Homo sapiens: one gene and its partners. The protein of the gene in region 3 purifies or fractionates together with the protein of the main gene of each other region. This does not show direct contact. Each region holds a gene or a part of one and is shown on either strand. Other genes may lie near its edges.

Region 1 (3,500 bases), on a different chromosome or scaffold from region 3:
TGCAGTGAGCTGAGATTGCGCCATTGCACTCCAGCCTGGGCGACAGGGCGAGATCCCGTCACACACACAAAAAAATTTTAATTTTGTCTATATTTTTAGTTGTTTAATTCTAGAGGCTAAATCTGGTCCCTGTTAATCCATCTGGACTGCAGCTGGAAGTTCCCCTGAAGTTACCTTGCACAGAGAGAAGTTATATAACTTTACATATTTAGGGGTAGCAGTTGGTAGATTACCACTTACCTCTTTAGCAATGCCAGGTAGGTTATATTAGATTATTCACAGCTTTTTTCTTTTTCTTTTCTTTTTTTTTTTTTTTTTTTGAGACAGAGTCTTGCTCTGTCCCCCAGGCTGGAGTGCAGTGTCGTGATCTCGGCTTACTGCAACCTTTGCCTCCCAGGTTCAAATGATTCTCCTGCCTCAGCCTCCCCTGTAGCTGGGACTACAGGTGCCCGCCACCATGCCCATCTAATTTTTGTGTTTTTAGTAGAGACGGGGTTTCACCATATTGGCCAGGCTGGTCTCGAACTCCTGACCTTGTGATCCACCCGCCTTGGCCTCCCAAAGTGTTGGGATTACAGGCGTTGAGCCATGGCGCCTGGCCCACAGCTTTTTCTAGTTGTGTTTAGGTGCTTAGGCTCAGGATATGGGGTTTAGTAAATAAGCCTTCCATATGCATATTGTCAGACCCAAATCAGTCCACAGCTATCTTACTGGAAGTGGGGTCACAAGGCAATTTCTAGAAAGCAAGTTCTGATAAAGGTAAATTGATTCACTGGAAGATCTTAAGATATATAAAATATCTCCAATACCATGTGTTTAATTTTAGTGAATAAGAATAATATAGTTTCTTTTTAAAGCTAGCACAAATCAAGTAATAAAACCCAGCAAAGCACACACAAAAATATAGGCTAGCCAGGTGTGGTGGCACATGCCTGTAATCTCAGCTATATGGGAGGCTAAGGCAGGAAGATTGCTAGAGCCCAAGAGTTCAAGACCAGCCTAGTCAACATAGCGAGATTCCGTCTCAAAAAAAAAAAAAAAAAAGAGCAGAAACCAAACAAACAAATATATAGGCCAATATATAGTAAAAACATGATTACCAAGTCCAAAATGAAATATTAGCAAGTTAATTCTAGTACTGTACTATCATGTTAACTTTTTTTGGTGACATAGCCTGGTACTAGTGATAAGTTTATTTCATCGATTCTCTCATTTGTTTCTGACAGCACAGAGAGATGTATATCTTCTTTCTTTCTTTATTTTTTTTGAGACAGAGTCTCACTCTGTCGCCCAGGCTGGAGATCAGTGTGACACGATCTTGGCTCACTGCAACGTCCACCTCCCAGGTTCAAGCAATTCTCCTGCCTCAGCCTCCCAAGTAGCTGGGATTAAAGATGCCCACCACCATGCCCGGCCAATTTTTTTGTATTTTTATAGAGACGGGGTTTCACTATATTGGCCAGTCTGGTTTTGAACTCCTGATCTCAAGTGATCTGCCTGCCTTGCCCTCCCAAAGTGCTAGGTTATAATAGAAGGGGAAGTTGAGTTTAGAATGGTCAAATAACTTAACTGTTTACTCTACCTATGTAACTTTAGCTTAGTCAACATTTTTTGGACTAGGTAGTGTGACTTCAGAATTGAACTCTTTTTCGAGACAGAGTTGCTCTTTTGCCCAGGCTGGAGTGAGGTGGCGTGATCTCAGCTCACTGCAACCTCCACCCCCTGGGTTCAAGTAATTCTCGTGCCTCAGCCTCCCAAGTAGCTGGGATTACAGGCACCCACCACCACGCCCCGCTAATTTTTTTGTATTTTTAGTAGAGACAGGGTTTTGCCATGTTGGCCAGGCTGGTCTTGAACTCCTGACCTCAGGTGATCCACCTGCCTCGGCCTCACAAAGTGCTAGGATTACAAGTGTGAGCCACCGCGCCTGGCCCAGAATCGAACTTTTAATCACAATATTATAATTTCCTAGAAACAATCTAGTTTTATCCTGGAGTTGTAAATATGATTTAACATAGTGAAATATTTTAGTATAATATCAGTAAGTCAATAATTTGATAATTTGCTATTGATATAGCTGTAAATATAGAAAATCCAGGAGAATGATCTGAAATTTCTTAAAAATATTTTAAAAATCCAGTGACATTATTAAATATATGGAAATCAGTTACTTCTTAAAAGGAGAAAAGTAGTTTTACTCTCCCAAACAAAACAAACAGCTAGGAAGAGTGCAGGGGTATTTTTTCTTTTTTTCTTTTTGTTTTTTTAAACTTAATGACCAGTGTGATAGTAGCAAGGGTATTCTTAATAAGAAAATACAAGACTTAATAAAAAAAATTAAAGGTCTTCAGTATTATAAGAAGACTGGAATAAATGGAATGAAATGCCTGTTTCTGAAAGTTTGTAAGGATGTTAGTTCTTCCTAAATTTGTGGACTTAAAATAATGCCAATCAGTCTGATGATTTTGGAACTTTATTTCCTGATCTGAAAGTTCACATGGTAGAATGTACTAATTTTTACAATAAAAAGGAGCACCTAATGTTAGGCATTATTTTAGATACCAGGGATACAGCGATGACCAAAAAGCAAAACTTTTTGCTCTCTTGGAGCTAGCATAGTTGGAGGAGGCAGGCAATAAGCTTGCTAAAAAAGTGTGTTAATTTATGTTAAAATAAAGATAAATTAGACTTATGAATCTCGTTTCTCACTGTTGCATGTGGTTGGCATTTAGTACCAGACTCTACCTGTGGTAAATCAGGCAAGTTGTTTTTCAACTTTTCACTTTCCTCACATTTAAAATAAGGGATCAGATTAATAGTATCCTAACTTATATATATTGTGTGAGCTTTACTTCACTTTCAAGTTTACCTGGTGTTGAATATGTGGAAGAGATAAACATGGTGCTATTTGGCACCAGTCCTCTAAGGGGCTTCACCAAATGCAGGCCCCTGCAGAGCAGGGTCCAGACACAGTGCACTAGATGAGCCCACTGTGGGCCTGTGCTGTGCCACAGACTGACGTGTCCCACGTCTCCCTGAGTAGTGTTGAAATGCAGAAGTAGGGAGATGAGCAATGGTGTGAGCAGTTGTTTTGAAGGATGTGGAAATAAGTTTGAAAACTGGATATAGTCTACAGATTTGGCACGTGGGTCAGTTGCAGATTGACCCCTCAGAAATATAAATCAAAACTTGGTCTCAATACAGAAATCAGAAAATGTAGAGAGTGTGATTTGGTGTGTGGGCCAGAGGTGGAGGGAGCTATGAGGAGAAAATGCAATTACTTTTTCCATTTTCACTTTGGATCTTGTATTGAGATGACCACTTGATGGTCAAGTGGATATGTCTGACAGACAAATAAGAAAGTCATATTGGAGTTAGTAATGTTAGTGATGGCTAAAGTGATGAGAATAGTCTTCTGAGGTTTGAAGCAGAAAGAAAATCAGTTTAGGAACTGGACTTTGGAGTTAAGGTGAGACAAAGCTGGAATAATCAGTGGGAAA
Region 2 (3,728 bases), on a different chromosome or scaffold from region 3:
CGGACTGCAGTGGCGCAATCTCGGCTCACTGCAAGCTCCGCTTCCCGGGTTCACGCCATTCTCCTGCCTCAGCCTCCCGAGTAGCTGGGACTACAGGCGCCCGCCACCGCGCCCGGCTAATTTTTTGTATTTTTAGTAGAGACGGGGTTTCACCTTGTTAGCCAGGATGGTCTCGATCTCCTGACCTCATGATCCACCCGCCTCAGCCTCCCAAAGTGCTGGGATTACAGGCGTGAGCCACCGCGCCCGGCCTACCATGTCATTTTCTATTCTAGAGCCTTCTGATTACCTCTATGTCACCTTTTCATTTTGTTTTAGATGACATCAGAGATTGTTCTGTTTCTCACTCCTCTATCAGGTTCCTTTACTTCTTTCAGGAAAATGCTAAGAGACCTCAGGGATCATTTGGTCTAGGAGTTGGCAAATTACAGCCCAACAGCCAGTTTGGCTGTCACCTATTTTTGTGCTACAGAGAGCTAAGGATGGTTTTTACAATTATAAGTGTTGTAAAAACAACCCCTTATTAAAACAACTGTGGGCCAAGTGCAGTGGGGCACCTGTAACCCCAGCACTCTGGGAGGCTGAGGCGGGCACATCACCTGCAGTCAGGAGTGAAGACCAGCCTGACCAACATGGTGAAACCCCGTCTGTACTAAAAATGCGAAAAGTTAGCCAGGCGTGGTGGCACGTGCCTGTAATCCCAGCTACTTGGGAGGCTGAGGCAGGAGAGTCGCTTGAACCTGGGAGGTGGAAGTTGCAGTAAGCCAAGCTTGTGCATTGCACTCTAGCCTGGGCGATGAGTGAAGCTCCATCTCAAAAAAACAAAAAACAAAACTGTGGTATTATTCATACAGCAGAATATTACTCAGCAAAGAAAAATATACAACAGAAACTGTGTATGGTCTCCAAAGGCTGAAATATTTACTTGCTGGTTCTTTACTGAAAAAGTTTGCTTTCTGATCCAGTTATAACTCCTAAATATTACAGATGAGGCAATATTTAAGGAAGTTAAATGTAGCAAAGTTATATAAAAGTAGATTGACTATCCCCTATTCCAGAATTCTTTTCCTCTTTTTTTTTTTTTTTTTTTTGAGATGGAGTTTCACTCTTGTTGCCCAGGCTGGAGTGCAGTGGCGCAATCTCGGCTCACTGCAACCTTTGCTTCCTGGGTTCAAGCGATTCTCCTGCCTCAGCCTCCTGAGTAGCTGGGATGACAGGCATGCACCACCACGCCTGGCTAATTTTGTAGTTTTAGTAGAGACGGGGCTTCTCCATGTTGGTCAGGCTGGTCTTGAACTCCTGACCTCAGGTGATCACCCACCTCGGCCTCCCAAAGTTCTGGGATTACGGGTGTGAGCCACCGCACCCAGCTAGTTTTTTTGTTTGTTTGTTTGTTTTTAAGAGACAGACTCTCACTGTGTTGCCCAGGGTAGAGTGCAGTGGCACAATCTCAGCTAATGGCAACCTCCACGTCCCAGGTTCAAGCAATCCTCCCATGTAAGCCTCTCAGGTAGCTGAGACTACAGGAGTGTGCTACCACAGCCAGTTCATTTCTATATTTTTTTGTAGAGACAGGGTTTCAGCATGTTGCCCAGGCTGGTCTTGAACTCCTGAGCTCAAGTGATCCACCCACCTCGGCCTCCCAAAGTGCTAGGATTATAGGTGTTAGCCACCGTGTGTGGCCTCCTCTCTTTTTTTTTTTTTTTAGAGACAAGATCTCTCTTGTTCACACAAAAACCTAAATTACAATTATAAAGTGTTGTAAAAAACAACCCCTTATTAAAACAACTGTGGGCCGAGTGCAGTGGCCCACTGCAGGAGTGGGCCTGGCTGGAGTGCAGTGGCGTGATGGTAGCTCACTGTAGCCTCAAACTGCTGGGCTCAAGTGATCCTTCTACTTCAGCCTCCCAAATAGATATGACTATAGTCATGTGTCATTAAGCCCAGCTAATTTTATTTTTAGTAGAGACGGGGTCTTACTATGTTGCCTAGGCTGTTCTCAAACCCCTGGGCTCCAGTGATCCTCCTGCTTCAGCCTCCCAAAGCGTTGAGACTACAGGTATGAGCCTCTGTGCCTGGCTCTTCCCACTCTCTTTTATATACTCCTTATATTTAAGGTAGGTACTCTACCTAGTTACCTAGTTTGGGGCTTTTAGTTTAGAAAGACATTAGAGATTGTGGAGTATTAATAAGTGAACTGTGTACATTATTTAAAGATTAAATAATAGGACTTAAAGATACTGAGGAATGAGGTGGTAAGAATAACTTACTGAGATTAATTTACCTGGAGGAGTTGTGTAGAAATTGGCGGCATATTTTGTGTGAAGGTGCTGAAACCTATATCTGTCTGATCACAAAGGTTTTTGTGTTAACTGTGAAGCAGTTTCACTAATAACCAGTCTAAGGGAGGATTCCCACTGGTTGGAGGATAGTAAAGGTCATCGTATGCCAGGCACCAGGAATAGAAGTGTGAATACTTTCACCCACCGCATCCTGGGCTGCAGTTTTACCAGTTGCCTGAATCTGGTGAGGAAGAGCACACACGCAACACGTTACATGAAACGGGTTTATTACTTACAGATAGGCAGCAAGGGACAACAGAAGCCGAGGATCCATTGTGAGCCAGTCCCCCAAGGCTCAAGAAAGCTGCCAGGGGCAAATGGAGTGTTAACTGCATATGCCTCACTTGCAGTACAGCTGAGGGATCCCAAAAAACAGCCTGCCCTGGTTTTTGTACCCTGGGGTCACTTGACTCTGGGCAAAGTTTGAAGGACATCCTGTTTCTAAGAGCTGGAATAGAGCCCCCAGGCTATGCTGGCCAGTTGCTCCCTATCTCAGGATGTTATATTCCCAGAATATTCTATAGTTATTTTGAGAACTACAGGCAAGAAGAAAAGAGGGGGGGAGAAACTGTATCCATCAGTCCAAGGCCATTGGGAAACCATCCAGCACTAATCTTTAATATAACATTTGTCAGCTGGGAGAGTTAAGTTTGTGTTAATGCTGATCAAAATGAAAAGTAGAACAGATGAGGAGCAGCAGAATATAGTGGAAAGACTACAGACGAGTAATATTTGGGGTCAAATTCAAGTCTGCCACTTATAAGCTCTATGACCTTGGGCAAGTTATCTTTATCAGCCTCAGTGTCTTGTATAAAATAAAAACAGAAATATCCATTCCATTGTAAAGGAAGAAATAAGTCAGGATATGAAAGATGGGCAGTTTGTCTCTGTCATGTGGGCTTTGTAAGTAATAAGTACTATTATTGTTTCAATTATTCTGTAATGAAAACACTTTCCCCTTTTGGGGTTCTTCCTTTCTAGACTCCCATAGTGACCCTCTCTGGCCACATGGAGGCAGTTTCCTCAGTTCTGTGGTCAGATGCTGAAGAAATCTGCAGTGCATCTTGGGACCATACAATTAGAGTGTGGGATGTTGAGTCTGGCAGTCTTAAGTCAACTTTGGTAAGACAAATTCAGTGTTCTTTTAAGTGATAAACTTCTAGAGATGGTTTTTAGTCTACCATGGTTAATGTTCTTTCCTTTTCTTTTTCAGACAGGAAATAAAGTGTTTAATTGTATTTCCTATTCTCCACTTTGTAAACGTTTAGCATCTGGAAGCACAGATAGGCATATCAGACTGTGGGATCCCCGAACTAAAGGTGAGTCATGTAAACCACTGGGGGAATATATGTGTGAATAACATCTATTTCTCATCTCTCTGGAGAT
Region 3 (3,728 bases):
CACACCTGGCTAATTTTTGTATTTTTAGTAGAGATTTTTGGCCAGGGTGGTCTCGAACTCCTGACCTAAAGTGATCCACCCACCTCAGTTTCCCAAAGTGCTGGGATTACAGGTGTGAGCCACTGTGCCTGGCCTCCAACCTTTTCTTATGAAAATTTTCAAACATTCAGGAAAGTTGAAAGGAGAGTACACTGGATAACTATCTGTATACTTTCCATCTAAATGCAACAGTTGTTAACGTTTTTCACATTGCTTTATTTGTGTGTGTATTATATATAGAGAGAGTAAGTTGCAGGTGTCTGACCTTTTACCATCGAGTACTTCGGTAGGATCTCCTGAGAATAAGGGCATTGTCAGCCAAGTGCGGTGGCTCACACCTGTAATCCCAACACTTTGGGAGGCCAAGGCAGGTGGATCACCTGAAGTCAGGAGTTTGAGACCAGCCTGACCAACATGGTGGAACCCCCTCTCTACTAAAAATACAAAACAACAACAAAAAAATGCCAGGCGTGGTGGTGAGCACCTATAATCTCAGCTACTTGGGAGGCTGAGGTGGGAGAATAGTTTGAACCTAGGAGACAGAGTTGCAGTGAGCCAAGATCACTCCATTGCACTCCAGCCTGGGTGACAGAGCAAGACTCCATCTCAAAAAAAGAAGAAGGGCATTCTCCTACTTACCATTAGCACATCTGGGAAGATTAACCATGAGTCCATAATATCACCTGATACCCAACCCATGAACAATTGAGATGTCCTCAGCTGGTGCCAGTGGTATCTTTGGATATTCTCTTTCTTTGGTCTCTTGATTTGGACTAGGCCTCCCCTCCCCAACCCCATCCCCTCAACAGCTGACTTTTTGAAAAGGCTTGGCCAGCCTGGACGCGGTGGCTCATGCCTGTAATCCCAGCACTTTGGGAGGCTGAGGCGGGCGGATCACGAGGCCAGGAGTTCAAGACCATACTGGCCAACATGGTGAAACTCTGTCTCTACTAAAAATACAAAAAATTAGCTGGGCATGGTGGTGGGTGCCTGTACTCCCAGCTACTCAGGAGGCTAAGGCAGGAGAATCACTTCAACCTGGGAGGTGGAGGTTGCAGTGAGCTGAGGTCGCACCACTGCACTCCAGCCTGGGTGACAGAGCAAGACTCTGTCTCAGGGGGGCAAATAAAAGAAAGAAAAGTCTTGGGCTTGGCCAGTTGTTTGTTTTTGACATATTTAAGATTTTTTTGTTTTTTGTTTTTTGTTTTTTTTTTTTGAGACGGAGTCTCGCACTGTCACCCAGGCTGGAGTGCAGTGGCACGATCTCCACTTACTGCAAACTCCGCCTCCTGGGTTCATGCCATTCTCCTGCCTCAGTCTCCCGAGTAGCTGGGACTACAGGTGCCCGCCACCACGCCTGGCTAATTTTTTGTATTTTTGGTAGAGACAGGGTTTCACCGTGTTAGCTAGGATGGTCTTGGTCTCCTGACCTCGTGATCTGCCCACCTCAGCCTCCCAAAGTGCTGGGATTACAGGCGTGAGCCACCGCACCCAGCCTGTTTGTTTTTTGAAATGGAGTTTCACTCTTGTTGCCCAGGCTGGAGTGCAATGGTGCAATCTCGGCTCACCACAACCTCCGCCTCCTGGGTTCAGGTGCTTCTCCTGCCTCAGCCTCCTGAGTAGCTGGGATTACAGGTATACGCCACCACGCCTGGCTAATTTTTTTGTATTTTTAATAGAGACAGGGTTTCTCCATGTTGGTCAGGCTGGTCTTGAACTCCCGACCTCAGGTAATCTGCCCGTCTTGACCTCCCAAAGTGCTGGGATTACAGGTATGAACCACCGTGCCCGGCCCTAAAGTTTTTGTTTTAAATTGAAATGTAACTTACGTGCAATTACGTGTACAATTAGAGAATGTTTTTCTTGTGTGTGTACCTGTGTAAGTGCCAGTCAGTCAAGATACAGAACATGTCCACATCCAGAAAGTTCCTGCATGCCCCTTCCTAGTTAGTACTTCTCACTGCTCTGACTTTTAGCACCATAAGTTAGGTTTTAGGACCATTTGTTGTATTGCAGAATGTCCCATATTCTAGGTTTGTCTCCTTGTTTCCTCATGGTGGCGTTTGACTTGTTCCTCTGTGCCAGTGTATGTCCCATATGCTAGATAGGTCCAGGCTTAAAAGTAAACATTTACATTTCTGGCAAGAACACATTGTCCTCCTTCACATTGTCCATTTTTTTTTTTTTTTTTGAGACAGTGTCTTGTTGTCACCCAGGTTGGAGTGCAGTGATGTGATCATAGCTCACTGCAGCCTCAGCCTCGTGGTCTCAAGTGATCCTCTTGCCCCAGCCTCGCAAGTCGCTGGGACCACAGGTGCGTGCCTTCACACTCGGCTAACATTTACATTTTTTGTAGAGACGGGATCTCCCTATGTTGCCCAGGCTGGTCTTGAACTCTTAGGCTCAAGTGATCCTCCTGCCTTGGCCTCCAAAAGTGCTGGGAATACAGGCATGAGCTATTGTGGCCCGCCCATGTTGTCTCTTTTTTTGTTTTTGTTTTTTTCTCCTGAGACAGGGTCTTGCTCTATCACCCAGGCTGGAATGCAATGGTGTAATCACGGCTCACTGCAGCCTCGACCACTGGGGCTCAGCTCCCACCTCAGCCTCCCAAAGTGCTGGGATTTCAGGCATGAGCCACTGACCCCAGCATTGTCTTTCTTGATGGGCTCCTCCTCTTCTCCTCCAGATGAGCTCCCCACACAAGAACTCTGTGCCATCATCCCTAAATGAGTATGAGGTGCTGCCCAATGGCTGTGAGGCCCACTGGGAGGTGGTGGAGCGGATCCTGTTCATCTACGCCAAGCTCAACCCTGGCATCGCTTATGTGCAAGGCATGAATGAAATCGTGGGGCCCCTCTACTACACCTTTGCCACCGACCCCAATAGTGAGTGGAAAGGTAAGAAGGCTCTTGGTGCCCACATCCCTCGTTGCTGGCCCGTGTCAGGCTGTGCACCTCACTTTCCCTCTCGGGCCTCTGTTCTCCCTCTGCCAGATGAGGAGTTGGCCTGGATCATCTCTGAGATCCTTTGCAGCTGTGATCTTCTAGAATGTTGGTTGTTTACTGATCTCTTGATATTTGTAATTTAATTCTGATAGAGAAGGTGGATATGTAGGAAGCCGAATTATAAGATTTAAATAATGATTTTTAAATTGTCATCAGGAGAGTGTGTAATAAACTGCTAAGTGAATGTACAGTATTGCCAGATGTGAGAAGAAAGAGGCGATGTCTTTAGCCTGGGGGTGGAGAGGGGTCAAGGACAGAGGAAGGACTGAGCCAGACCATGAGGATGGGGCAACTCGGCGGGGCTCAGAGCAGGGCAGATGTCTGGTAGGTGAGAGGTGGGGTGGGCCTGGAGTGCGCCACTTCTGCCCCCATCCTGCTCTCTCCCAGAGCACGCCGAGGCAGACACCTTTTTCTGCTTCACCAACCTCATGGCCGAGATCCGGGACAACTTTATCAAGAGCCTGGATGACTCGCAGTGTGGCATCACCTACAAGATGGAGAAGGTTTACTCCACCTTGAAAGATAAGGATGTGGAGCTCTACCTGAAACTGGTGAGGACCCCAGGAACAGACGGGTGGAAAGGGACAGGAGGCAGAGAGTTGCTGTGCCATCCCAGCCCAGGGCGAGGTCTCGCTTGAGTCTGGGGGTCAGAAGTAGCTGCTGCTGCTGCTGCCCGGGACGCTG

The links.
Region 1: the proteins of TBC1D13 (region 3) and ARMC1 fractionate together in Homo sapiens (co-fractionation; one large-scale study listed by BioGRID). This does not show direct contact.
Region 2: the proteins of TBC1D13 (region 3) and WDR12 fractionate together in Homo sapiens (co-fractionation; one large-scale study listed by BioGRID). This does not show direct contact.

The regions. Positions count from the first base shown.
Region 1 is NC_000008.11:65,606,678-65,610,177, reverse strand, and holds part of ARMC1 (armadillo repeat-containing protein 1), read left to right. Parts: intron 1-3,500.
Region 2 is NC_000002.12:202,884,131-202,887,858, reverse strand, and holds part of WDR12 (ribosome biogenesis protein WDR12), read left to right. Parts: intron 1-3,323; coding exon 3,324-3,464; intron 3,465-3,555; coding exon 3,556-3,661; intron 3,662-3,728.
Region 3 is NC_000009.12:128,800,525-128,804,252, forward strand, and holds part of TBC1D13 (TBC1 domain family member 13), read left to right. Parts: intron 1-2,725; coding exon 2,726-2,936; intron 2,937-3,431; coding exon 3,432-3,595; intron 3,596-3,728. UniProt on the Homo sapiens protein: Acts as a GTPase-activating protein for RAB35. Together with RAB35 may be involved in regulation of insulin-induced glucose transporter SLC2A4/GLUT4 translocation to the plasma membrane in adipocytes.